Homo sapiens: one gene and its partner. The protein of the gene in region 2 purifies or fractionates together with the protein of the main gene of each other region. This does not show direct contact. Each region holds a gene or a part of one and is shown on either strand. Other genes may lie near its edges.

Region 1 (4,380 bases), on a different chromosome or scaffold from region 2:
TTAAATAACTGTCTTTTTTTTCTTAATGTGAGAGTGATACATACTCCCTGTAGAATAATTTGTAAATGCAGATAAGGCTGGACGCAGTGGTTCATGCCTGTAATCCCAGCACTTTGGGAGGCTGAGGTGGAAGGATCCTTTGAGCCCAGGAGTTTGAGACCAGATGTGGCAACATAGGGAGACCCCATCTCTAAAAAAGTTTTTTAAATTAGCCAGACATGGGCCTGGCGCAGTGGCTCATGTCTGTAATCCCAGCACTCTGGGAGGCTGAGGCGGGCAGATCATGAGGTCAGGAGATCGAGACCATCCTGGCTAACAAGGGGAAACCCCGTATCTACTAAAAATACAAAAAATTAGCCAGGCGTGGTGGCAGGCGCCTGTAGTCCCAGCTACTCAGGAGGCTGAGGCAGGAGAATGGCGTGAACCCAGGAGGTGGAGCTTGCAGTGAGCTGAGATCGCGCCACTGCACTCCAGCCTGGGTGACAGAGCAAGACTCTGTCTCAAAAAAAAGAAAAAGAAAAATCCCAGCTACTTGAGAGGCTGAGGTGGGAGGGTTGAGCCTGGGAGGTTGAGGCTGCAGTGAGCTATGATTGTGCCACTGTACTCCAGCCTGGGTGACAGAGGGAGACCCTAACTCAAAAAAAAAAAAAAAAAAAACAAAATGTTGGGTGGGCATGGTGGCTCACACCTATAATCCCAGCACTTTGGGAGGCCATGGCAGGCGGATCACCTGAGATTAGGAGTTCGAGACCAGCCTGGCCAACGTGGTCAAACCCCATCTCTACCAAAAAATACAAAAATTAGCCGGGTGTGGTTCACGCCTGTAATCCCAGCTACTCGGGAGGCTGAGGCAGGAAAATCGCTTGAACCCAGGAGGTGGAGGTTGCAGTGAGCCAAGACTGTGCCACTGCACTCCAGCCTGAGTGACAGAGTGAGACCCTGTCTCAAAAAAAAAAAAAAAAAAAAAATGTAGATAAGCAAAATGATGAAAAATTCTACCACTACGTGGAAAATACATTTTGGCACGGCACACATTAACTGAGTACCTGTGTGTGCAGGGCAGGCCTTTGGTGAGAAGACGAGGAAACAGAAAAGAGTCACTGGGATGAAGGCTGAGAAGTCCACATCCATTTGTTGGGTAGGGACCCCCCTCAGCCTGGCACGTTGGAAAGCTCTCCAGAGCCCTGAGCCCTGAAGAATAAGCCTCCTCCTGAGAGCAGGAGGTGGTTAGGCAGGGCTGGAGCCTGGATGATCAGTTGCCATGGTGCCCGGGTGAAGTGATGGTGGGGTCGCAGGAAGGGCAGTCTCAGACCCACCAGGAGAGCAAGGCTAAGCCTTAACCTGCCACCAAGACCTGGACCAGCTGACCCAGATCCTGAAAGTGACCGGGGTGCCTGGCACGGAGTTTGTGCAGAAGCTGAACGACAAAGCGGTGGGTGGTAAATGGGACCTAGGCTGGCCTGGGCTGTGTGCTTGCCTGACGTGGGCCCAGTGGGCTGCAGGCCTTTGTGGAAGAAGGCTCACCAGCACCTTCCCACAGCATCCTCCTACCCTGGCAGGCACTCTTGTCTTAATCTCACCGTGGACCCTGACCTGAACTTTCAGCCCTGCTCTGAGGCTTTTCTGAAATCCCTGCTCTACACGCTGAGGCCAGAGCCCTAAGGGGTTTGATGCTTTTCTGTCTTCCAGGCCAAATCCTACATCCAGTCCCTGCCACAGACCCCCAGGAAGGATTTCACTCAGCTGTTCCCACGGGCCAGCCCCCAGGGTGAGTCTCAGAGCCCGCTCCCCAGGGGCCTCTCAGCGTATCCCAGAGGGCGGGCTCTCCCAGCCCCTGGTGTGAGGCTCTTGGCTCTGCCCCTGCAGCTGCGGACCTGCTGGAGAAGATGCTGGAGCTAGACGTGGACAAGCGCCTGACGGCCGCGCAGGCCCTCACCCATCCCTTCTTTGAACCCTTCCGGGACCCTGAGGAAGAGACGGAGGCCCAGCAGCCGTTTGATGATTCCTTAGAACACGAGAAACTCACAGTGGATGAATGGAAGCGTAAGAGCTGGGGCCTCGGGCTTCCTCGCCTCCGCCTGCAGCCTCTCTTCCTTGCTTCCTCCATCTTTGTGCCTGGCCTCTGCCAGCCCTACCTGCCACCTCCTTCTTGGTGGGCATTGTCTCCTGGGTGCTTCTTTCTCCTTGAGCTGACTTCGCTCTCCATGCTGTCTCTGAAGGGGGGTGGACTTTCTCGCCACAGCACCTCTTTACGCACCTTAAACCATGCTGCCTTTCTCAGAGCACATCTACAAGGAGATTGTGAACTTCAGCCCCATTGCCCGGAAGGACTCACGGCGCCGGAGTGGCATGAAGCTGTAGGGACTCATCTTGCATGGCACCGCCGGCCAGACACTGCCCAAGGACCAGTATTTGTCACTACCAAACTCAGCCCTTCTTGGAATACAGCCTTTCAAGCAGAGGACAGAAGGGTCCTTCTCCTTATGTGGGAAATGGGCCTAGTAGATGCAGAATTCAAAGATGTCGGTTGGGAGAAACTAGCTCTGATCCTAACAGGCCACGTTAAACTGCCCATCTGGAGAATCGCCTGCAGGTGGGGCCCTTTCCTTCCCGCCAGAGTGGGGCTGAGTGGGCGCTGAGCCAGGCCGGGGGCCTATGGCAGTGATGCTGTGTTGGTTTCCTAGGGATGCTCTAACGAATTACCACAAACCTGGTGGATTGAAACAGCAGAACTTGATTCCCTTACAGTTCTGGAGGCTGGAAATCTGGGATGGAGGTGTTGGCAGGGCTGTGGTCCCTTTGAAGGCTCTGGGGAAGAATCCTTCCTTGGCTCTTTTTAGCTTGTGGCGGCAGTGGGCAGTCCGTGGCATTCCCCAGCTTATTGCTGCATCACTCCAGTCTCTGTCTCTTCTGTTCTCTCCTCTTTTAACAACAGTCATTGGATTTAGGGCCCACCCTAATCCTGTGTGATCTTATCTTGATCCTTATTAATTAAACCTGCAAATACTCTAGTTCCAAATAAAGTCACATTCTCAGGTTCCAGGTGGACATGAATTCCAGGGGGAAATGATTCAACTCACTACAGACAGCTGGGAGGGAGGGGCCCCTTCCTGGGCCCCGTGCTGAGGCCTTGTGCTCTGTGAAGGAACCCAATGTGTTTGGCTGCTAAATTAAGGGAGTTGCAGAGAGAGCTGCAGCTGGTGCGATTGCATTCAGGTTATTTTGGGTGAGTGATAAGCAATCAAGATATGAAACAACAGCAGGCTCGGAGACTGCGAGCTGCACAGGCAGAAATGGGCTCTTGCCTGGCTTGATGGCAAACCGTTCTGCTCCCTTTGGGAGATGGCACAGCTCTCCAGAGCTTTGACCTGACAGTGGCTAGAACCTCTCTGTTTTTATCTGAGAAACTTTGGCAGAACAAATTTCCATGTGCACAAGCTGTCGGGCACAGTGGGTCTCAAATTTCCTTGTGCACCAGGGGACTTGTTAAAATGCAGATTCCTGGGCCCCACCCCAGGGCTTGTGACTCAGCAGGTCTGCAGTTGAGACCTTAGAATGTGCATTTGAATGAGGACCTCTCGCCCTGACCCAAGCCTAGTGATTCTGATGGATATCAGACCATAGTTCGAGACATTTAGTGGATTTCAGTCATACTTGATTTGTTGGGAGGCCTAAATCAAAAACCTATAGGAGGAGACTGGGGGGCTTCAGATGGAGTTTCACACTCATCTTACAGGTGTTAAAACTGAGGCTCAGAAAGCTTTTTTTTGTTTGTTTGTTTGAGACAGGGTCTGGCTCTGTCACCCGGGCTGGAGTTCAGTGGCACAATTACATCTTACTGCAACCTCAGCCTCCTGGGCTCAAGCCATCCTCCCACCTCAGCCTCCTAAGTAGCTGGGACTACAGGTCTGTGCCACCCAGGTGCACCAGGACTGCAGGTGGCTAATTAAAACATTTTTTTTCTTTTTTGTATAGGCGGGGTTTCTCTATGTTGCCCAGGCTGATCTTGAACTTCTGGACTCAAGTGATCCTCCCACTTTGGCCTCCCAAAGTGCTGGGATTATAGGCATGAGCCACCCTGCAGGCCCAGACAGCATTTTTAAGGCCTTGAAACTCTTCTGTATAATACTGTAATGGTGGATACCTATTGTGCATTTGTTACCATCTGTAGGACTGGATAACACAGAGTGAACCCTCAAGTAAACTATGGACTTCAGTTAATAATAATGTATCAGTATTGGTTCATAAATTGTAACAATTGTGCCACACTAATGCAAGATGTTACTCATCAAGAAAACTGAGGAGAGAGAAGGGGAGGAAGTAGGTGGGAACCTCTATACTTTCTACCAACCTAAAACTGCTCTAAAAAATAAACCACAG
Region 2 (5,262 bases):
TTTGTTTGTAGTTGACTTGAAGCACAACATGTAATTTTAACATTAACTACCATTAAATTGTTTTCTTTTGTAGCTAGCAATTCGAAGAGCTACTCTGAAAAGATCATTTACTCCTGTATTTTTGGGAAGCGCCTTGAAGAACAAAGGAGTTCAGCCTCTTTTAGATGCTGTTTTAGAATACCTCCCAAATCCATCTGAAGTCCAGAACTATGCTATTCTCAATAAAGAGGAGTAAGTCTTGAAAATTGAATCTTAGTTTATGCAGAAATACTTTCGTATTTATGCACTGTGAAGGAATTTAAGGATAGTTCTTTTAATTATGTCTGTGATTTTTTTTCATAATTTACAATCATGGTTTTTATTTGGGTAACAATTTTGACGTATAGAAAAATATTTATTATACTAGTTCCTATATCATATTCTGTTTTGAGTTGGAAGTATGATTTGTTTTACTCTCTCTCAAGGTTTACATCATTAGAAAATTTTCTCATTTGGGACTAGCTGTTTTCAGACATACTGTTAAAAAAAAAAAAGTTTTAAGAAACAAACTTCTGCCAGGCGCAGTGGCTCACGCTTGTAATTCCAGCACTTTGGGAGGCCAAGGCGGGCGGATCACCTGAGGTTGGGAGTTTGAGACCAGCCTGACCAACATGGAGAAACCCCGTCTCTACTAAAAATACGGAAATTAGCCGGGTGTGGTGGTGTGCACCTATAATCCCAGCTACCCAGGAGGCTGAGGCAGGAGAATCACTGGAACCTGGCGGGGCAGAGGCTGCAGTGAGCTGAGATTGCACCACTGCACTCCAGCCTGCCTGGGTGACAGAATAAGATTCCAAAAAAAAAAGAAACAAACTGCAAAAGAAACTCATTGGTTATGTTTTCTTTTCTTTCCCTATGAGACCATTTCTGTGTTTTTTAGTGTACTTTTGTCCTATCACTATGTAGTAACTAAGCTAAGCTCTAAAGACCTTTTTTTTTTTTTTTTTTTTTTTTGTTGAGACAAAGTCTTGCTCGGTTTCTAGGCTGGAGTGCAGTGGTGCAGTAATAGCTCACCACAGCCTCGAACTCCTGAGCTCAAGTGATCCTCTCACTTCTGTTTCCCAAAGTGTGGGCATTATAGGCATGAGCCACTATGCCCAGCTGAGAACTTATTTCTATTGATCTCTTTCAGTGAAATTTTACTTATGTGTGACAGCAGTAATATCCCACACACGTGCTTTTTCTCAGATAATACTTCCTGATGAAATAAATTGATATAAAAGAAATATCATATATTACATCTCATAGATTTATATTTCTTTTATTTTAAGTGACTCAAAAGAGAAAACCAAAATCCTAATGAACTCCAGTAGAGACAATTCCCACCCATTTGTAGGCCTGGCTTTTAAACTGGAGGTAAGTTGCTTTCTAATGTATTTAACTGCTATCTGTAGAATGTTTTTACTTCTAGGCTTTATTCCTATTACAGAATGACTCTGACTTTTATGAAAGATTTGGAAAATAGGAAAGTAGAAAGAGCAGGTAGAGAATTTCCAAAGCTCTGACATGATAGTTCTTTTGTTATTAGGTGCATTTCTTTCTAGTCTCTTCTCTTTGCCTGAAGAGTGTAAATTTTTACCTAAATCATACTACCTGTATAGTTTTGTCCTGCTCTTTTTATTTAATGTCACAGTAGATAATGGTCCATGTTTCTATAAATAGTTTAAGCATTTTAAATAGTAGCATAACAGTGCATCAAGTAGATACACCAAAATTTGCTTAAAATTTCCTAATTGTTAGATGTTTATATTGTTTCCAGGTTTCTACTGTTATAAATAACATTGGGTCCATTTCTAGAAATATGTCCTAAGGAACTAATGAAGGGTAGCGAATTAATGTTAGCTTCAGCTCACCTTATAAAACCAAAATCTCGCAAACAATTGAAAATGCCCAGCCAGTCGCAGTGGTTCACACCTGTAATCCCAGCACTTTGGGAGGCTGAGGCGGGCAGATCAGAAGGTCAGGAGTGGGAGGCCAAGGCGGGCGGATCACAAGGTCAGGAGTTCGAGACCAGCCTAGCCAACATGGTGAAACCCTGTCTATACTAAAAGTACAAAAATTAGCTGAGTATGGTGGCGGACACCTGTAATCCCAGCTACTCAGGACGCTGAGGCAGGAGAATTGCTTGAACCTGGGAGGTGGAGGTTGCAGTGAGCCGAGATCGCACCACTGCACTCCAGCCTGGGCGACAGAGCAAGACTTCATCTCGGAAAAAAAAAAAAAGAAAATGCCCAGTAATTACAATTTGATAAATAAACTGAGGTACATTCTTATAGTACAACATTATTCAGACTTTAAAAATTATGTTGAAATGCCTATTTTTGACATGAAAAGATGTTTATGATTTAAAAAGAAACAAACTTACTTATTTTAGAATATTTTAAAGAAAAGTTATGAAGATAGTCCAGAGAATTCCTGTATATCCTGCACCCAGTTTCCTCTATTGTTAATACACACTGTCACAACTAATGGGCCAATACTGATATATTATTATTAACTAAAATCCTTACTTCATTTGAATTTCTTTAGTTTTTGTCTAGGTCCTTTTTCCGTCTCACTAGACAGAAGGACCACAGAAGGCCCATCCAGAGGACCACGTTATATTTGATTGTCATGTCTCCTTATGATCTCCTAGGCTGTAATAGTTTCTTAGACTTTCCTTGTTTCTCACGAGATTGATATTTTTGAGAAGTATTGGTCAGCTCTTTTGTAGAGTGTCCCTCAATTTGGGTTTATTATTTGATGCTTTTCACATGATTAGATTGGAGTCATGTGTTTTTAGGAGGACTGCCATCGAGGTGAAGTGTTATTCTTGTCACATCATATCCAAGGTACAGACTTGCAGCATGATTTATCATTGTTTTTGTTTTTTTTTGTTTTTATTTTTATTTTTTTGAGATGAGATTTCGCTCTTGTTGCCCAGGCTGGAGTGCAATGGCACAATCTCGGCTCGCTGCAGCCTCCACCTCCCAGGTTCAAGCGAGTCTCCTGCCTCAGCCTCCCAAGTAGCTGGGATTACAGGCATGCGCCACCACGCCCAGCTAATTTTGTATTTTTAGTAGAGACATAGTTTCTCCCTGTTGGTCAGGCCGGTCTCGAACTCCTGACCTCAGGTGATCCGAGTGTCTTGGCCTCCCAAAGTGCTGGGATTACAGGCATGAGCCACCGCACCCGGCTGATTTATCATTGTTAATGCTAACCTCAATCACCACACCTGGCTGAGATAGTGTTTGACAGGTTTCTCTGCTGTAAAGTTACTGTACTCTTTTTATTCCCCTTTTCATAGTGTACTTTTTAGAAGGAAGTCACTTGGCTCAGCCAACACTTGAGGGGGGAATTATGTTCCACCCCCTTGAAGGGGGCACTATCTACATAAGTTATTTGGAATTCTTCTGAAAGGGAGATTTGTCTTTCTTCCCTGCTTATTTATCTATTTGGACAATCACTTATTTAATATCAGCGTGGACTCACGTATATGTATTTTGAACTTTGAGTTATAACTATGACTTTGAGTATGTCATTTGTTGTTCAGATTGGCTGGGTTTGGCGATTGGGAACTCTCAGTTGGCTCCTGTGTTCCTTTAACATCTTCCAATGTTTTGCCTTTTTGAATACTTCCTTACTTGCTGGCACTACAAGACGCCTCAGGCTTATCTTGTATATTCCATGCCCTAACCCTAGAATCAGCCGTTCTCCAAGGAGCACTGGTTCCTTTTTAAGTAAAATGGTATTAGAAACCAAGATTTGGGGACTGGATGGGCTTTTTGTTGAAATGCTGTTGCTTCTGTACATAATATTTTAAGTGGGGAAAAATGGTAGATAAGTTGGAAGTGTTAAGAGTGGTTATTTCTGGGATGGGATTATATTTTGGGGGCTTTTTCTTACTTTAAAAATATTTTACAGTATATTTATTACCTCCAAAATGAGGGGAAAATTTTTTTAATTAAAAAGTGGAAATAACATTACAGTAAAAGTATTTACACATAAAGCTTTTAAAAATACATATATAAGAATATTTTCTTAGGATTCCCAGAATAGTGATTATTGAGTTAAAGGCATAGAATGTTTTCATAGTTAATGGTTTATATTGCCAGATTGCGTTCATACTCTCCAAATTAATGTATTGGATTATTTCAATGAATATCATCATTGAGTATTGTTTAAAAATCATTACTGATTTAACAAATGAAGAATTCTATTGTAATCTTTTATCTTGATGAAATAAATTTTGATTTTTAAAAGCAATCAGTGCTTTAAAGTTTGTATAGTCGAATATGTCAGTCTTTCTGTTTAGTCATTCATTAATTTTTAACCTTAGCAACCTTTTATTTGTATATATTTTGTTAATATTTACTTTCGTTCCTTCTACTTCTTTATGTTTTTTTTCTTTCCCCATCATTAATTCAACTGGAATTTGTTTTAGTGGGTAGGATCTAAATGTATCTCCTCTGCCTCCAAATAGAGTATCAGTTGTCCAGTTAGTACTTTATGCACAATCCTTTCTTCCTTTTCCATTGATTTGTCATGTTTCTTTATCATCTATTGACAAATATATTTTATACTTTAGATTTTTATACTGTACTCTGTGGGGTGTTTAGTCTAATTTGTGCTGGTTCTGAATTTTCTGAGTTTCAAGCATTTTAATATGTTTTTATATCTGTCAGGGTTAGTTTTATCTTATTACCATAGTTTTTGAAAAATTTCTGTTTTTACCTATTTATTCCTCTGAATGAATTTTAAAATCACTAATCATGTTTAAAATTTCCTGTTGGGATTTCGATTGCTATTTTGTTAAGCCTATAATTAACATGGTAAGAACTGGGAACTGTTAAATATATGTTAATTGGTCACTGCTAGTATATTCAATCACTTCACAGAACTCTTTTTTTTTTTTTTTTTTTTTTTGAGACAGAGTCTCACCTATTCTGTTGCCCAGGTTGGAGTGCAGTGGTGCGATCTCGGCTCACTGCAACCTCCGCCTCCTGGGTTTAAGCAATTTTCCTGCCTCAGCTTCCCGAGTAGCTGGGATTATAGGTGTGCCACCACGTCTGGCTGATTTTTGTATTTTTAGTAGAGGTGGGGTTTTGCCATGTTGGCCAGGCTGGTCTTGAACTCCTGACCTCAGGTGATCCGCTCGCCTCTGCCTCCCAGAGTGCTGGGATTACAGGCCTGAGCGACCAGCCCAGCCACAGAACTCTTACTCACATAATTTTCCACGTGATT

Evidence for each region. Proteins that work in one complex are often made in the same cells at the same time.
Region 1: the proteins of GFM1 (region 2) and MAPK13 purify together in Homo sapiens (co-immunoprecipitation; one large-scale study listed by IntAct). This does not show direct contact.

Annotation. Positions count from the first base shown.
Region 1 is NC_000006.12:36,137,013-36,141,392, forward strand, and holds part of MAPK13 (mitogen-activated protein kinase 13), read left to right. Parts: intron 1-1,352; coding exon 1,353-1,432; intron 1,433-1,689; coding exon 1,690-1,768; intron 1,769-1,866; coding exon 1,867-2,043; intron 2,044-2,281; coding exon 2,282-2,361; 3' UTR 2,362-4,380. UniProt on the Homo sapiens protein: Serine/threonine kinase which acts as an essential component of the MAP kinase signal transduction pathway.
Region 2 is NC_000003.12:158,653,237-158,658,498, forward strand, and holds part of GFM1 (elongation factor G, mitochondrial), read left to right. Parts: intron 1-73; coding exon 74-231; intron 232-1,310; coding exon 1,311-1,395; intron 1,396-5,262. UniProt on the Homo sapiens protein: Mitochondrial GTPase that catalyzes the GTP-dependent ribosomal translocation step during translation elongation.